2 separate regions of the Homo sapiens genome follow, and region 2 is linked to region 1. The links come from fine-mapping of genetic effects on gene expression. Tissue or cell type: whole blood. Region 1 holds a variant in brackets; the other region holds the start of a gene. All regions are shown on one strand. Distances are between the middles of the regions.

What was found. PIP is the estimated chance that this variant, and not a neighbour inherited with it, causes the effect.
Region 2: it holds the start of GK5, and the variant in region 1 is fine-mapped to the expression of GK5 in whole blood (TOPMed, PIP above 0.99).

The regions. Positions count from the first base shown.
Region 1 is chr3:142,344,273-142,347,033 of GRCh38, forward strand. The region is part of intron 33 of XRN1 (5'-3' exoribonuclease 1); the gene reads right to left. Among named protein-coding and RNA genes, the nearest start is that of XRN1, 100 kb to the right of the region's middle. The variant CAT/C (reference allele first, on the strand shown) is at 1,783.
Region 2 is chr3:142,224,204-142,226,828 of GRCh38, forward strand. GK5 (glycerol kinase 5) reads right to left here and starts at 1,382. Exons shown (of 16, transcript NM_001039547.3): 1 at 1,106-1,382. The coding sequence starts at 1,252. RefSeq lists silencers at 916-1,135, 1,326-1,565.

The sequences.
Region 1 (2,761 bases):
AATACCCTATTTACCCTGATGTGATCATTATGCATTGCATGCCTGTAACAAAATATCTCATGTAACCCATAAATATATATACCTACTATGTATCCACAAAAATTAAAAATAAAAGATAAAAAACAAATAAAAGGCAAGGATGCATGTTCTCACCACTTCTATTCAGCACTGTACTAGCTGTTGTAAACACAGCAATTAGGCAACAAAAGAAATAAAAGGCATTGAGATTATATAGGAAAAAGTAAAACTATCTCTATTTGCAGAAGCCACAAAAAATTAGGGCTAATAAACAGTTAAGGCAATATACAAAAATCAGTTTTATATCTATAACAGAAATGAACAATCAAAAAATAAAATTAAAAACCCAGTTCCATTGAAAAAAGCATGAAAAAGAGTAAAATATTTAGGAATAAATTTAACAAAAAAGTGTAAGACTTGCATAACTGAAAACTACAAGACATCATGGAAAGAAATTAAAGACCGAAATAAATGGAAAGACATCTTGTGTTCATGGACAGGAAAACTTAATACTGTTAAGATGACAATACTACCCAAAGTAACCTACAGATTCAATGCAATCCCTATAAAAATTCCAGCTGCCATTTTTGCAGAAATAGGCAAGATGATCATAAAATTCATATGGAAATGCAAGAGGCCCAGAATAGAGAAAACAATCCTGAAAAAGAAAAACAAAGAGGGCTCAAACTTCCTGATTTCAAAACTTACAACAAAGCTACAGTAATCAAGACTGTGTATTTCACATAAGGACGGGCATATACATTAGTGGAATGGAATTGAGAGTCCAGAAATGAACCCATACATCTACAGTCAATTACTTCTTAAAAATGAGATGGTGTCTTAATATGTTTCCCGGGCTGGACTCAAACTCCTGGGTTCAAGCAATCCTCCTGCCTCAGACTCCTGGGCAGCTGGTACTACAGATGCATGCCTGGCTCTATAGCCAAATAATTTTTGACAAGGGTGCCAAGACTATTCAATGGGGTGTCAAGAAAATTCAATGGGGAAAGAGTAGTCTTTTTAACAAACAATGTTTGGATAAATGGATATCCACATGCAGAAGAATGAATATGAACTCCTACATCATACCATGTATAAACTTTTACTCAAAATGGAAAGAGACCTAAATCTAAAAGCTAAAACTATACAATTCTTAGAAGAAAACACACTGTAACTCTTTGTGACTTTGGATTAGGGAATGGTTTCTTAGATGTACACCTAAGGTACAAGCAACCAAAGACAAAGCAGAAAAAATACACAAATTGGACTTCATCAAAATTTAAAACTTTCGTGTTTCAATAGAGTATAAAGAAAGTTAAAAGAAAACCCACAGAATGGGAGAAAATATTTGCAAATCACATATCCAAGAAGCATGTAATATCTAGCATGTATAAAGAACTCTTACAAACCAAGAAAAAAGATTAAAAAATCCAATTAAAAAATGAACCAAGGATTTGAACTGACATTTCTCCAAAGATGATATACATGAAAAGATGCTCAACATTATTAGTCATTAATAAATTACAAATGAAAACCACAAGAACATTCCACCTCACACCTAGTAGGACGACTATTGTCAAAGAGAGGGACAATAACAAATGTTGTGAAGGATGTGGAGAAATTGGACCTTCACACATCCCTGGTGCAAAGGTAAAATGGTAATATCCAAACAGTTCGGCAGTTATACAAAAAGCTGAACTTAAGAGTTACCACTATATGACTCAGTAATTTCACTCATATGCATATACCCAAGAGAACTGAAAA[CAT/C]ATGTTCACACAAAAACTTTTCCACAGATATTCATAGCAGCATTATTCACTATAGCCCCAATGTGGAAACAACCTCCATGTCTACAAATGGATGAACCGATAAAATGTAGCATTCATACAATGGAATATTATTCAGCCATAAGAAAGGATGAAGTACTGATACAGTTGTCCCTCCATATCTGTGGAAGATTGCTTCCAAGACCCTCCTGTGGCTATCAAAATCCACATATGTTCAAGTCCCTTACAGAAAATAGTGTAGTATTTGCATATAATCTACAAACATACTCTTTATATATTAAATAATCCCTAGATTACTTATAATGCTTGATACAATGTAAATGCTGTGTAAATAGTTGTCATACTGTATTGTTTAGGGGAATAATAAGATTAAAAAGTGTGCACATGTTGAGAGCAGACACAATCATCCTCTTTTTTTTTTTTTTGAGAAGGGGTCTCACTCTGTCACCCAGGCTGGAGTGTAGTGGCTGATCTTAGCTCACTGCAACCTCCGCCCCCCAGGCTCAAGCAATCCTTCTACCTCAGCCTCCTGAATAGCAGGGACTACAGGTGCATGCCACCACACCTGGCTAATTTTTGTATTTTTGGTAGAGATAGGGTTTTGCCATGTTGCCCAGGCTGGTCTTGAACTCCTGGGCTCAAGTGATCTGCCTGCCTTGGCCTCCCAAAGTGCTGGGATTACAGGCATGAGCCACCGTGCCCTGCCTTTTCTGAATATTTTTGATCCTCAGTTGGTTGAATCCATGGATGTGGAACCCACAGGTACAGAGGGCCGACTGAACATGCTACAACATAGATAAATCTTGAAAATACACAAGTGAAAGAAGCCAGTCATAAAAGTTCATATATTTTCTGATTCCATTTATATGAAGTGTCTAGAATAGGCATATCCATAGAGGCAGAAAGTAAACTATGGGTTGCCAAGGCCTGGAGGAGTGACTGCTAATAGGTATGGTGTT
Region 2 (2,625 bases), 120 kb before region 1:
CAGACCAGCCTGGGCAACATGGCAAAATCCCATCTCTATTAAAAAATACAAACAAATTTAGCCAGGCATGGTGGCCCCTTGCCTGTAGTCCCAGCTACTTGGGGGGCTGAGGTGGAAGGATCACTTGAGCCCAGGAGGTCAAAGCTGCAGTGAGCCGAGATCACAGCACTGCACTCCAGCCTGGGTGACAAAGTGAGACCCTGTCTCAAAAGAAAAAAAGGAACAACAATAAGAACACCATAACAAATAAATATTATTTTTGGTGCATTGACAATTGTGTATAAATCAACACTTCATTAATATGAGAACAGAAGGATATCAATTTGTTGGTTGCTGACCAATATTATCAACAATTCAAGGCTTTACTAACAACCAACCAATGATTTGGCAGGTCTCTCAAACGAGGGGAAATAAAGAATTTTATGAATTCTCAAAGATGGAAAATAGAAAACTGATGACCACACAGCCTTCAAAACTTGCCCAATACCTCTAATATCCACGGCAATCAGTTGCTCACGTAAGGAACCAGCATTTTGTGGAGTAGTAGTTAATAAAGATGACAAGTGAAGAATAGAGAATAAACTTAAATTCTACAAAGATATGAAAAGTTATTGAGGCACAAGTCCAAAGGCTATAATAAAGAAAAAAGAAAAAAAGTTTTGAAAAATTAAAATGTAAATAAAGATGTGGTGGGAGATCTATCAGGGAAGTGCAGGAAGAACCAAGCAACTCACAAACCACCCTCTGGCTGGATGTGCACAGCCTGCCCAGTCCCGTCCGGCGAGTCACCTCAGTCCCATCCAGGTAAGGCCGGACAGGTGGCTCCCCAGGTGGCAAGAGGCAAGCGAGCGGCCCAGGTCATACACCGGGCCCCTGGCACCCTCAGCCTGGACAGGAAGGGCGCGCGGGATTCAGCCCAGACGAGGGAGGGAACGCGAAGACTCAGCCGGTCTGGGCGCGCCGTTCTGGCCCCAGGGCCCGCGGGTGCTGCAGGTGGCCGCGTCCAGGGCGGTAGGTGGGGCCTGCCCGCTCGCCTCCCGAGGCCGGACCCCGGGACTCAGCGAAACCCAGTCAGACCCGCGCCCCACGCCCGCCCCCAAGTCACCTTCTGCACGCTGGAGCCGCAGACCCGCGCCGCCCGGTCATAGACGTGGCAGCGGATCACAGAACTGCCCACATCCAGCCCCAGCACGAAGCCGGGGTACCGCGGCTCCTGCGCTCTCTGCTCCGGGTCCGTGAGCAGCCCCGACATCCCGATCCCGCACGCCTCTCCGCTACAGCCGCCTACCCAGAGGGCGCGCTACAAATCCCAATGCTCCAGAGTCCCCGGGCGGCCCAACCCGGGCCCCAACCCGGCTCAGCCGGAGAGCCTAGAGAGGCCTGGCCCCTGCCGCCGGCTCCACCCCGACGCCGTGACGCCACGGGCGCGCGCCGGCGGCCGCGCGGGAGGGGTGGAGGTGAGCGGGTTTGCGCCGTGATCTGCAGCCCCAGATCGCCAGCCATGCTCAGCCTCCAGTCGCCGGCCGCGGTTGGATTGACTTGGCCCTTAACTCTTGTTTTTTTTCTTTTTGAGACGGAGTCTCACTCTGTCGCCCCGGCTGGAGTGCGGTGGCGCGATCTCGGCTCACTGCAACCTCCGCCTCCCGGGTTCAAGCGATTCTCTTGCCTCAGCCTCCCGAGTAGCTGGGATTACAGGCGCGCTCCACCACGCCCGGCTATTTTTGTATTTTTAGTAGAGAAGGGGTTTCACCATGTTGATCAGGCTGGTCTCGATCTCCTGATCTCGTGATCCGCTCGCCTCGGCTTCCCAAATTGCTGCGATTGCAGGCGTGAGCCACCGAGCCCGGCGGCCCTTAACTCTTAATTTTTTCTTTTGCTTCTCCAGCTTCCTGAGAGGCAGCGCCAGCGTTTCTCTTAACCCTAGCTACATTTGAAGAATCTCTGTTAAAGAAAAATAGCTACCCCATATGCTAATCGTAAGGAGAGAAGTATAGGCTAGTTTATATAAAAATCTCAAAAAGTTTGGAGGTGCCATAAGGCACATTTATTCATTTCTCAACTATGATTATGACTTGAGGGTTGGAGAAATTTTTATCTGAGTAACTTTGGCAGACTAACCTGTGTCTGCGTTCGTGCAGAATTTTTCAAGCTTAAAACATTTGTAGAGGTCACTACCATATATAGTTTCCATTTTTTTGCTAACATTTTGGGTGCGACTTTATTTCAGTATTATTAAATGCACAGCCATTGAATATGCTAGAGTTAAATGAAATAAAGTGCTGTTTTTCAAAAATGAAATAAAACAAGTGACATAAAAAATTCAAAATTTGGCCAAAAGTATTAATATTTATTAACAAACTGAGAGCTCCCCACGACTTCTCTTCCCAGAAAACCTGGTAAAGTTTGCACACAATACAAAGCGGTAAATATTTGCCAAATGAAATACAACGCAAGGAAGAAGACTTTTCTCAGCCCTCTAGTGGGAAAGAAAGGAGAAAGCTTAAGGTGGCTGCTTTGACCATCACACTCCACTCCAGCGGTTGCTTTTTTTTGGAATCTGAAAGCCTCACAGAGACCCTTTACCTTTTGTTGCTGCCCAAGGGGATGGGCTCATCCAGACACTTG